Linked DNA regions of Homo sapiens. The protein of the gene in region 2 interacts with the protein of the main gene of each other region in a pairwise test. Each region holds a gene or a part of one and is shown on either strand. Other genes may lie near its edges.

Evidence for each region. The genes of interacting proteins can lie anywhere in the genome.
Region 1: the proteins of L3MBTL3 (region 2) and NRF1 interact in binary tests that used the Homo sapiens proteins (3 or more experiments, as listed by UniProt).
Region 3: the proteins of L3MBTL3 (region 2) and CRLF3 interact in binary tests that used the Homo sapiens proteins (3 or more experiments, as listed by UniProt).
Region 4: the proteins of L3MBTL3 (region 2) and TBC1D1 interact in binary tests that used the Homo sapiens proteins (3 or more experiments, as listed by UniProt).

What each region holds. Positions count from the first base shown.
Region 1 is NC_000007.14:129,709,220-129,712,719, reverse strand, and holds part of NRF1 (nuclear respiratory factor 1), read right to left. Parts: coding exon 3,487-3,500; intron 2,347-3,486; coding exon 2,149-2,346; intron 1,246-2,148; coding exon 1,144-1,245; intron 1-1,143. UniProt on the Homo sapiens protein: Transcription factor that activates the expression of the EIF2S1 (EIF2-alpha) gene. Links the transcriptional modulation of key metabolic genes to cellular growth and development.
Region 2 is NC_000006.12:130,063,581-130,067,080, forward strand, and holds part of L3MBTL3 (lethal(3)malignant brain tumor-like protein 3), read left to right. Parts: intron 1-2,772; coding exon 2,773-2,908; intron 2,909-3,500. UniProt on the Homo sapiens protein: Is a negative regulator of Notch target genes expression, required for RBPJ-mediated transcriptional repression. It recruits KDM1A to Notch-responsive elements and promotes KDM1A-mediated H3K4me demethylation.
Region 3 is NC_000017.11:30,782,184-30,784,438, reverse strand, and holds the end of CRLF3 (cytokine receptor-like factor 3), read left to right. Parts: coding exon 1-252; 3' UTR 253-1,755; downstream 1,756-2,255. UniProt on the Homo sapiens protein: May play a role in the negative regulation of cell cycle progression.
Region 4 is NC_000004.12:38,051,584-38,055,083, forward strand, and holds part of TBC1D1 (TBC1 domain family member 1), read left to right. Parts: intron 1-315; coding exon 316-477; intron 478-1,522; coding exon 1,523-1,642; intron 1,643-2,615; coding exon 2,616-2,755; intron 2,756-3,091; exon of another isoform or gene 3,092-3,167; coding exon of another isoform or gene 3,168-3,406; intron 3,407-3,500. Other genes in the region: uncharacterized protein LOC124900692, read right to left, coding at 3,168-3,406. UniProt on the Homo sapiens protein: May act as a GTPase-activating protein for Rab family protein(s). May play a role in the cell cycle and differentiation of various tissues.

The sequences.
Region 1 (3,500 bases), on a different chromosome or scaffold from region 2:
GAAAGGAGGCACATACGCTTTGCAGCATCCCTTACAGGAAGGCTAGAGTTCATTCACGTAGACATCTCTCTTCCCCACTAGACTGGAGTCCCATGACAGCAAGGATCCTGTGCGAATCAACTCCACACAGCTGCAGCTACACAGGGGTTTGGCACATGCAGGGTGGCCAAGGAGCCTGTGGTGCACTCTCCCTCCATCTCCCAGCCATGTGGCCTTTGCCAGCTCTCCCCCTCTCCTGAGGGGCACAAATGAAAGTGACTTTGTGGTGTTCTAAGGGGAAATGCTCCATGGCTCTCAACAAGGGTGAGATAATACTCTTAGCTTTATTTCTGATACTGCTCTTTGACATCTGTTGGCTATTTTTCAAACTTCAGCACACCACATCAGTATCTTCAAGGGAAACACTCATGGTGACGTAACAAACCCCTTCCTTCACTGTTGCATCTTCACCAATGGCTCAGAGCCTAGGTAATGTTTTTCTCAATGCATTATCCAGCTTCAACACTGCTATGGGACTTTGGGCAAATCATCTAAGCTCTGTTATGTCTCGGTTTTCTCATCTCTAAAGTGAAGATAACAGAACTTTATACTTCATAGGGTTGAGTGTTTAGCCCACCAAGTGATCAATAAAGGTTGGCTGTCTTTAGGTTAATGTCCCATAATTATCCCAATTTTGGTAAGGAAGAATTCTCCTAAGAAATCTTTTCAAAGGCATATTTAAGATGTAATAAATCATGTTACTGACTTGCAAACATATTTATCCTTTCAAAGAAGGCTTCCCTTAGTCAGTTCCAGTTTTAATGTGACATTTTTTTTTCATAAAGACCAAAGATGAAATTCTTTGGGATTCACAGCATAAAAATGGTAAAGGGATAATCCCTTTGTATTGTGTATAATACCAAATGCTATACATTCAAATGTAAAATTCTAAGTTCCTGACATACTAATCCATGAATCTTAATTGTTACAATTAATACACATAGCATAAGACACTTTCTAAAACTTTCATGGTCTCATGCTCTTTAAAAGGTTTAAATGAAAGAGTGCCGCAGACATGCAGGCTACTCCATCTTCTGGACCCTTGCTTTTCCCTCATTATACATTCAAGTATTTAAGAAGATGCAGATGGAATCTCTTTCTTACCTCTCCATCAGCCACGGCAGAATAATTCACTTGGGCAACGGTGACCGTGGTTGGCAATTCTGAAGCATCAGCCAATGTGGCTACTGTTGCCCCCGTACCAACCTAAAGAAAAATATGGAAAGTGGTTAAGTGTCAGTGGATGGATCCTTCCACCTCTTTACTCAGAAGCTGAGACTCATTTAATCCCAAATTCAGCACAGATAACAAAGAATATGCCTTATGATGTGAAATCTAAAATCATAGCTCACTAAAATCATAGTTCAGAGACTATCACGAGTTTCAGAATTTTACTTCAACCAAATAAGTCCATATGAGAAAAGCTATCACATCGCCACATCCATGCCCAGTGTTGGTCAACCAACTTTCTATTCTCACCTCAATCTGAACTTTAGAGGTTCCCAATCAACAAATTGTGTTTTACCTCAGAAGAGGTCATTCAGAAGGAATATTCCCTGATCACTGAGAGTGAAACTGTAAAACAGAAGTCATTTTAAGGCCAGACATGGTGGCCCACATCTGTAATCCCAGCATTTTAGGAGGCCGAGGCAGGAGGATCACTTGAGCTCAGGAGTTTGAGACCAGCCTGGGCAACATAGCAAGACCTCATCTCTACTTAAAAAAAAAAAAAAAATTCAGCCAGGCCTGGTGGCATACACCTGTAGTCCCAGCTACTCGGGAGGCTGAGGAGGGAGAATCACTTGAGCCCGGGAGGTTGAGGCTGCAGTGAGCTGTGATGACAGAGAGAGATCTTGTCTCAAAAAAAAAAAGAGCCCTTTAAAAGTGCTTTGTTTTGGAAATGTCCAGGAAGCTACTCATAGCTCTGTATTTAGCAAATGCAAAGAATTTAAACTATTCTTCAGAAATCAATTTCAGGTAGGAAGATCTTGGGGAGCTATATAAAGTTCATACAAGAGTTCGCACAAAGGAAACTTTCCCTAGTCTGAGGTGAGGTGCCCACTGATCCATCTCAGAAGCCACAGTCTGGTAGCCCTCAGGTTTACTCACCTGGATAAGTGAGACAGTGCCATCAGGGTTACTAAAAGTCTGGACTACAGTCTGTGATGGTACAAGATGAGCTATACTATGTGTGGCTGTGGCCTGTGTTTGCGTTTGCTGATCTTCAAAGGCATACAAAAGGTCTTCCCGCCCATGCTGTTTATAACAGTTTTTAACTATGGTCCGTAGTGCCTGGGTCCATGAAACCTGTCACCAAATGACCGGAAAAGCACATTAAGCCACAAAGAACTTTGGTTATTTAGTCCCAATATGCAATAAGCAGCTACTTCTTTATCAAATCAAACCAAACCAAACCTCTTATTAGACTCTCCTAGGATTACCTCCCACAGACTGGTTCTGGTAGAAAGAAGCTGTGTACGAAGTATCAAAGAGGGCTTCTCATTGGTTTCTTCTTGATCAAAGTCTAGTTTACACCCTATTCCAACCTGAGGCCAAACTCTTAAACTTCTTGCAAAGAAAGATTATTCTGATCAAGAATGGCATATTAAGATTCTCAGTAAACTTCCAAGCTAAATGAAAAATAAATACGTGGCCAGGCATGGTGGCTCACGCCTGTAATCCCAGCACTTTGGGAGGCTGAGGAGGGCGGATGGCCTGAGGTCGGGAGTTCGAGACCAGCCTGACCAGCATGGAGAAACCCCATCTCTACTGAAAATACAAAATTAGCTGGGCATGGTGGTGCATGCCTGTAATCCCAACTACTCGGGAGGCTGAGACAGAAGAATTGCTTGAACCCGGGAGGCAGAGGTTGCGGCGAGCCGAGGTCACGTCATTGCACTCCAGCCTGGGCAACAAGAGTGAGACTCTGTCTCAAAAAAAAAAAAAAAAAAGAAAGAAAAGAAAGAAAAAGAAAAATAAATACGCAAAAAAAGTAAGGAATGGTAGGTAGTTTAGTCTTTCTTGTAAAAGTTTTGTTATTAGCAGACTCAGCTGGCAGACTTCATATCCCTCTAATTCCATATTTACATTTTCAACAATGATTTTTAGTAACCAGAAATAAAAGCATTTCTAAGTGTTCAAAGTGATTAATACTTTTACTTCAAGTTTCTTTGACTTTCCCAAGCACTTCATAAAATTAAAACTGCTCCAAAAGGCAACCCCGAAGACACATTTTAAATTCATCAACTCAACCCAGTCTTCTCTTTATAGTATAGTGATGGAGCGACAAATGGAAAAGGCTATAAATCAAAGAATATCAGTCTTTGGAGGGACAGGCTTAACTATTACACAAAGACTTTCTAGCACAAGATGTAGAAATGACAAAAATTGAGGTGGTTAATTTAGGATGGAAAAGCAACCAGGCAACTCAGTCAGAGGAACTCTCACCCTCTGCTTTTGCT
Region 2 (3,500 bases):
TAACCTTGTTTTATGTGTGTTTCTGTTTAAAGACACCTCATTTAATGTATATCGTTCATTCATTAAAAATTGAACTCACAAGTAAGAGCACTATCACTCCTGCCTGATGAAGCTTATCTAGCACAAGTATCTTCTCTGTAAGGCAACATCACAACCTTTTGGCACTTAGGGACACTAAACAACACCTCAGCACTATGTCAGGGGCCATTTTAAACAGTAACATCACCCAAGAAAAGCACAAAAATGTAGAATATGTGGCACTAAATGGACCACACAAAAGACACTTATTCCCAGTACGAGAACTGAAACAGGAAGGTAAAGCTCCTTCTTGATTGACTTCAGCTGGGAACATGCATGTTGAGTGACTCAAAAGTGTTGTCAGTCTGTGCATGTCCACGAACACTGCGAGTATTATTTTGGGGTTACAAATAAATTGTAGCAAGTAGATGACTTCACAAACGTGGAATACAGTATGTGAATAATGAAGACTGGCGGTATGTCATTTTTTCCTTCCCATCACCATTTACTAGACTTGGTTAGGTGGAGACAAGATGGATACCTGAAATGATAGAATGTCACCAGGCAAATATTTTGCAAAGGATATCAGGGCAGAAATTTTAAAATGTTGGCAAGAAAATGTTTTTTAAATGATTGCTAGGAAAGGAAGGCTTGGGGTGAGGAGAGCTGCTAGGGAGGAAGTAAAAGGATCAGTGTGAGACTAGAGTTTCTGTTGAGATTGAGGAAGAGGCATCTGGGGGTAACTGGGTTTGCAGACTGGAATAGGAGTATGTGTCCCAGGGTTGGATTTTTAAATTTAATACTAAGAAGCAGAGCAGTTCTTGTTGGGGACTAGATTCATGGGAGTGAGGGCTTGAAGTAGAGAGGAAGGGAGTCAAAATGCCAGGGTATTGGATAAGTCATCCATATGGATGACGAAAGTACTCAGATGGAAAGGAAGAGAATAAGCCAGGGCTAAGTGTTTGGGTGGTTAGCATGGGGGAAGAAGAGGAGGAGAGTTGCTTCAGCCATATGGCTCGAGCCTCGGCAGGGGAGAACTGGCCTAGGATCCATGGTGTGGTGGGAGGCAGCAACCCGTCCTGTGTCTATGGGAGGTAGAGTTGGGAACATGAGCACCCTTGGGGAAAGGCTTGAGAAGGACGAGCTAGGTATGACTGTGGGCAAGGAGGGTGAGGATGTAGGAGATTGTTTCTCAAAGCATAGCTTTCCGGTGAGCCTGAGATAGAGACTATGGGGAGAACAGAGAGAGCTTGGCTCAAGGGAGCAGAAGCTCAGAACGGTGTGCCCACAAGGAACTAGAGGCTGTAAATTACTATAGGGCTGAGCTCTTAGGATCGGCCAGATATAGCTGACTGTGAGAGAGAGGAGAGAAGCAGCCTTCTTTGCATGGGGTGGCTGTAGGGAGTGGGGGTAGCTCCTGCTTTACCTGAGAGATTGTATTTCCCAGGGATTCCAGTCTCAGCTGTATGGAGAGACTCTGTTCTCTCTGGGGGGAGTCAGCTTAGTTGTAAATTTGATGTATGTGGTATATCAATACATTCTAATTGAAAAAATGCTGATACATAAAAGAAAATATGAAAAGTCCATCATTCCCATTTTGCCCCTTCCTTTTCACTACCACTTCCTAGAAGAAATCATTATTAACATTTTGGCAAATATACCTCCGGACTTCTTTTTACTATGTGTTTACATATGTATGCATATGTGTGTATATTAATGTATGTATATAAATGCATATACTTATGTATATACACATAATACACATATGTATACATAATCATATACCCATAAATACATGTGGACCCCCACATGTCTAATTTTCTCATAAACTTAACTCATTCTGTGTTATGTGTTCTACCACTTGAATTTTAACTATATGTTTTAGAGAACTTTCCATGACAGTAACTGTACAGCTACCTCACTATTTGAGGATTAATTGCCCTGGCTCTGCACTCTGGTCTAAGTTCATCATTCAGGGTTCTGCAGGACAGACACTCCTGGAGCGGGTAGAGGTCTGGCGTGATACGTGTTTCTACTTGAACACATCTTCTTGTGTTAGTGGGAAGAAGTCTCAGGGGCTGAACCCTCTCTCTAAGAATCCAGGGCAGGGTATGATCCAACTCAGGTCTCGTAAGCCTATATGACCTTCTAAATCAGAATGTCTCTAAGTGGGGCCCTGTAGGCATATGTATGGCATGTGTTATACAGAGTACATTCTTACTAGCATTCTTAGGAGCCTGTCTCATCCAAGTAATAAACTAGGAGAGACGCTTTTCTTTCTTTCTTCCAACCCAGCTTTGGTGGAGAAAAAAAGCTTGACTTCTGTGCATATGCACCAGCTGTGGTCTGCAGCCTTCAGTGCAGGGCAGACTGTCCACTCTGGGGCCATGCTAGAGCTGAGTGTGCTGTGCTGGTGTGCCTTCCAGCTTACCCTGGGGACACATCTTGGTACAACATAGGGAGTGGAGAAAGGACCTGCAATTGTGGGATATTATGCTTTGCCCCCTATCCGTGTGGTTGTAATGTAACTGAGAATGTTGCCAGAATGCCACAGCTCAGCTCTTCCCACTTTAATAGCTTTTGTCTTTAGATTCTGGTTATTTGTTTAGTTGTTTTATTACTGTTAATGTGGGTGGTTTGATTAACATTAAGACTATATCATGCCTGGTGTCCATGTTTATTTTTGTGTATATATATATATATATGAATATTCTGAGTTAAAAAAAATAATTCAACCTATTTTACCTGTTTCAGGTTTGTGGATACCGGATAAAGCTTCACTTTGATGGGTATTCTGATTGCTATGACTTCTGGGTGAATGCAGACGCTCTGGATATCCACCCAGTTGGGTGGTGTGAGAAAACCGGCCACAAACTCCATCCTCCAAAAGGTTTTGTCACTTTTTGTTTGATATTTTAAATTCAGTAAAAACTCATTTTCTTACATGCTACATTAGAATTGTTAAGAATTCAGACTTTATGAAAATTCAGATAGGCACAAATTTAACCTTATTGTTTATGATGAAACCATGTTTATTAAAGTTAAAGAAATAAAAGCAGAATCCAGCCTAGGAAAATAAAGTATGTTCATATGCTTATTTTCATGTAAAATAACATTTGCATGATACTCAACTTTGACTACAAATAATGTTTACCTGCAAATTTCTATTATTAAATACATACATCTTTGAAAAAACTGATTTGAAAAATTAGTTTAAATTAGTTTATATAACTAAGTTTAGTGTTAACTGGTTTAAACTAATTTTTCAAATCAGTTTTTCATTATATAGAAAATCCTGAGAAATTATGCTTGACCGTATAGATCTTAATATTTAGGAGATTGGCAAGAAGACTGTAACACTAAAAATTGGCTTAGGTGGGGGGTTGAACTCATAGCAATTACTTTTCTTATATTTGAGTACTTTATATTATAGTCCCCCAGTGATTTTCCTATTTCATGTTTATATCAAAGTTCAAGAATAA
Region 3 (2,255 bases), on a different chromosome or scaffold from region 2:
GTTTTTGTCAATGGAAAAGAAATGACAAATCAGTTACCCGCAGTTACTTCTGGGTCCACTGTCACGTTTGACATTGAAGCCGTGACTCTAGGAACCACCAGTAATAATGAAGGTGGACACTTCAAGCTTCGAGTAACTATAAGTTCAAATAATAGAGAAGTGGTTTTTGACTGGTTACTTGATCAGTCTTGTGGTTCTCTTTACTTTGGATGCTCATTTTTCTATCCTGGATGGAAAGTGTTAGTGTTTTAGATGTTTGGGTGCTTGGCTTTGGTTTTCAGGGTCTAACGTAGCTGTCCTCAGCCCAGCGTAGTTGTAATTGCTTTAAAAAAAAAGTTGAATTCATCTCTAACTTAGGCCATTGGAAAGTGTTTACTGGATTCATTTTGTAATATTTTAGCAAAAAGAGACTTCAATGTTGTGGACAAAATCATACAATTCAGTCAATTTTATTTTTAGCATACTGTTAAATATCACATCACAATAAAAATCAAATTGGCATTAAAAGTATAGAAGATATAGGAAGTTCTATACCCTTCCACTGTACTTCTCAAAGTTGGTTATTAGACCAGGAAAACTTAATGTAATATTATTTTTAAAATCATCTTAAAGGATCCAAGTCCATGTAACTCTTTAGAACAAGAGGAATAGGTCAGATAGAAGAAGCTGTGTAATGTATTAATACATCCGTTCATGTGCTGTCCACATGAATGTGTTGACTGTGCTCTCCATGTTCAGGTATTTGTAAGCAGTGTTGACTTTTATCCCCTCTTCAGTAATCTTTAAGTCCCCAAAACATTATAACTTTTTCTTTTTTTGTTGAGACGGAGTCTCACTCTTGTCACTCAGGCTGGAGTGCAGTGGTGTGATCTCAGTTCACTGCAACCTCTGCCTCCCACGTTCAAGCGATCCTCCTGCCTCAGGCTCCTGAGTAGCTGGGATTACAGGCGTCGGCCACCACACCTGGCTAATTTTTGTATTTTTAGTAGAGACAGGGTTTCACCATGTTGGCCAGGCTGGTCTTGAACTCCTGACCTCAGGTGTTCCACCCACCTCAGCCTTCCAAAGTGCTAGGATTACAGGTGTGAGCCACTGCAGTGGACCAATTTTTGTATTTTTTTAAATGCTTGACCAAGTGTCTAAAATAGGCAAGTAGTACCTTTTGTTCTTTCATTGCAATTTGATACAGTATAGGCTACAGTATTTTTACAGGGTAAAACTAGTTATGGCAGTAGTATGCACAGCAGTGTTAGCCATTTCATATGTATGTAATATGCACGTGTGTATCCAATCTGCCTGTGACATGCATTTTACTCTTTGCAGAGAATGAGCTGCAGTCCAGTTTAATGTCAGTTTAATAAGTGGTCTCTTTTTAGCAGAGCAAAAAAATATAGCGTAAATACTTATTTTTTTTAAAAACTTACTTAAATTTGTGTGTAAAATATTTATTTGAAGGACTTTAATATGTAAAAATAATTGTCTTCTATGCCACCCTACAGATTTTATTTTAATGTGAATTATTTTTTTCATTTCATTTTTACCAGTATAGTAAAAAAGTAGAAAAGCAAGTATGATATTTTTGTAAGATAATTTATTTGGGGATTCATGTTCCCTGTTAGACAATCATGACCTTTTCTACTTGTCTTTTTATATATAAGTAGTAGATTTCCACTTGTTTAGGGATTAAGAAGATGTTCTAGAATGTAGATACCTTGTCCAGCCATAGGAATCAAAATAAAAAACTAAAAAAGTTCAGTGTGTGTACTTTTTTCTTCTGTGAGATTTGGTGAATCCAGTTTTAACCTACTTTTCATTTGAAGGGAAAACAGGCTTCTTGTGGCTCCAGGCATTTTAGTAAGATATCACTGTGACTTGTGAAAGGGTATGTGTACCTTCTTGTACTTTCTTTTAAAAACTTTTTTAAAAATATTTTTTGTAGAGAATGAGGGTCTTGCTGTGTTGTCCAGACTGGTCTCAAACTCCTGGCCTCAAGCAGTCCTCCCCAGCCTTGGCCTTCCAAAGTGCTGGGATTATAGGCATGAGTGACCACACCCAGCTGGTTACTTGTACTTTCCTATATTCTGTGTCTGATACTGAGCATCTTGCCTGACACAATGTGTGCAGAATGAATGGTGGATCGAATGAGTCGTTTTCTCCAGATATCTTCATCTCATTCCTTTAATTCATCAAATATTTGTTGAATGTATTTATTTCTTAGCCTCTCTAGGGAAATGACATCTTAATTTATACCTATA
Region 4 (3,500 bases), on a different chromosome or scaffold from region 2:
GCTGTGATCGTGCTACCGCACTCCAGCCTGGGTGATAGAGTGAGACCTATTAAAAAAAAAAAGTATTGTTGGGAGCATAAACACGTGGGAAATGGTCAAGAACGGCCGTCAATATACTCTGTTTTTCACTGAAAACTACCTTTGCCAGAGAGCGAGCAGAGATGAGGAAAAGGAGTGGAAGAAGTCCTCCACTCTGATAGTGTTACTGGAACAACGAGACAAAAGCGGTGTGCTCCTTCCACCTGTTTGCTCCGTGTCCCTGTCGGCGCCCCCTCTCCTGCTAACCCCCCCGTGCTTTCTCTGATTGCTGTTTAGTGTGGATCCTTCACCTGTGGGTGAGTCTAAGCACCGCCCAGGTCAGTCTTCAGCTCCTGCTCCTCCACCTCGTCTTAACCCCTCCGCCTCCTCGCCAAACTTTTTTAAGTACCTAAAACATAATTCCAGTGGAGAACAAAGTGGGAATGCTGTGCCAAAGAGGTGAGCACACTCACGTGGCAAGTTTGGTGTTGTCTGTTTTCCTGGGGAGTTCACACTGATGAGGATGTGCTGAATGGGGGGAATGTCCATGCAGGAAGCAGAGCCACTGTGTGTGTGTGTGTGTGTGTGTGTGTGCGCGCGCGTGTGTGTCTTTGTTTATATTTTGTCTTATTTTCAGCTGTCATTTGAACCAAGTTAATTTTACTATTGATGACTTTTCTTAAGATTATTATGAAAACAGATCTTAATGGCAGATTGGTTTGTGTTTGTGTTTGTTTTTTTTTTTTTTGAGACAGGGTCTCACTCTGTTCCCCAGGCTGGAGTGCAGTGGCGTGATCTCGGCTCACTGCAGCTTCTGCCTTGTGGGTTCAAGCAGTTCTCCTGCCTCAGCCTCCCGAGTAGCTGGGACTACAGGCACACGCCACCATGCCCGGCTAATATTTTTATTTTTTTTTGTAGAGATGGGGTTTCACCATGTTGACCAGGTTGTTCTTGAACTCCTAACCTCAAGTGATCCGCCTGCCTCAGTCTCCCAAAGTGCTGGGATTACAGGTGTGAGCCACTGCACCCTGCTGCAAATTGTTTTTTTATACTTATTTTCACATTTCCTTGCCCTAGTGGACACTTACATGCATGCGTATATACACACACACGCGCGCGCGCGCGCGCACACACACACACACACACACACACACACACACACAGGATAACATCTGTGTTTGATCATGTACACTGCAATTTGTGCCATATCAGAAACTTCCTGATTGATTTAGGGGAATTATTTTTCCCAGTTTGAAAGGAAGAGTTATTTGGAAAATGGATGGATTTTCTTTTTTAAAAAATTATTGATCCCATTCATTTAAAATCAAATTTTATTGGTGAAAATGAAAATTAAATCTCATTCGTGAACTACTTTTAATTTCTTACCTAGTTTTCTTTTCTTAGCATTAGAACAAAAATGTTTCTTTTATTTTGAAGCTTATATTTTATACTTTGTGTTTTTATGTTTCTTTATCCTAAACTCTTTTTTCAACCAAACTCTTAGCATCTCCTACCGTAATGCCCTGCGGAAAAAACTTCATTCTTCTTCCTCTGTGCCAAATTTTCTAAAATTTCTGGCTCCTGTAGATGAAAATAACACCTCTGATTTTATGAACACAAAAAGGTAGGGCTTAATTTAGATATATCAAGCCTGGGTGTTACTAAGTGTTGAATATCATTAGATATACAAGGGTGTTTTAATTACTATTTTGCCATTTAAAAAATCATTTCAGCTAAATCTGTTGTATCTTCTTTCTTATACTTTTTTCTTACTGAATGCCATTTTTAAAAATGTGCAACCAACCTGTTCTCTAGTTTTGACGAGGATTAGTTTAAGTGTTATCTTAAGAAAAGTCTTTGCCAAGTCTCTGAGACCAGTGTTTCTGGTTAGTGAGCATATGTCTGTTTCAAATCAGGATGTCTGATCTGTTCAGGACGTCTAATCTGTAAGTTGAGGGGATTGCTTACTTACAGGTACATAACTTGGGTATAAATTGGAAGGGCCTTCTCAGGTTGTCCTGTGAATAGGAGAAAACATTTATGATTGTGTTTATATATTGATAACTGTATTTTGTAGTTTAAAAAATACACACGTTAAAACAATTATCATCATCAAGTGACTGCATAGTTATTGCCTTGCTGGTTCTGTGTAATTAAATTGCAAGTTTTTTCATTTTTTGTGGGAATCCTTGGAGACATGGGCCTGTGCTGAGCAGATATTCCCATGCACAGAAGAGGGCAGAATGGGGCCCCTTGGCATCACCCCCTTTCCCCCTTTAGGCAGTTTCTCTTTATCAAAGTGGCACCAAGAGAGGCCCAATTGGAACTATGATATGTGGAACATGTTTCTTAATCTCTGTTACAATCGAAATCACTTAAGGGCATGTAATCTTTCTCTTTTCATGAAAAGAATTCTGTAAGAAAGCAGTTCTTTAGGAATGATGACCCACTGTGAGCTTGATATAACTTCTGTGATTGATTATTTGTTTATACAAAGATAGTTGATAATTTAGTGATTTGTTTAAAAAAATGTTAAGCTAACAAAATCCCGTGAATTCCTCCCCACTAGTCATAAATCAATCATCTTATAATTTTAGGGACTTTGAATCCAAAGCAAACCATCTTGGTGATTCTGGTGGGACTCCTGTGAAGACCCGGAGGCATTCCTGGAGGCAGCAGATATTCCTCCGAGTAGCCACCCCGCAGAAGGCGTGCGATTCTTCCAGCAGATATGAAGGTAAGGCCGGTACCTGAAATGAAACCTCAAAGAGAGCACGCTGACAGAGGACCCTGGGAGCCCCATCATATTGGTAAGAAAGCAGAGCGCCGTCCTCTTCAGTATTGGCAGGTCTGAGGCAATCACAAAGGTAACTAGGGAGGGAATTTAGAGGTTACCCTCCATTTCTTAGGGAAGGAATTTAAAGCTAATTTAGGGTAACCTCTCCATAAACAGGAGCAGAGCTCTGATGTTTAGAGTGGTCACAGTGTTAACCAGCGGTGAATCCAGACAGGTCTGCGGCAACCTCACTTCTTGCCTCCTAGGACATAAGGCAAAAGGAGAGACTGAGGCAAGTTTTAGAGCAGCAGTGAAAGTTTATTAAAAACTTCAGAGCAGGAATGAAAGGACGTCAAGTACACTTTGAAGGTGGTTAGGCGGGCAACTTGAGAGATGAAGTGTGAGATTTGGCCTTTTGACCTGGGGTTTTATATGCTGCCATACTTCCGGGGTCTTGCGTTCCTTCTTCTCTGATTCTTCCCTTGGGGTGGGCTGTCCGCATGTGCATTGGCGTGCTAGCACACGGGGGTTGTGGGGGAGCGTGCGCAGGGTGTTTACTGGAGTTGTAGGCGTGCTCACTTGAGGCGTTCTTCCCTGTCCAGTCTAGCATTCCTAGAGGAACGTCATGCACCAGGTAAATTCCGCCATGTTGCCTCTTAATGCGCATGCTTGAGCCCACTCGCCCAGCTCCCGAGATCTTATTGGG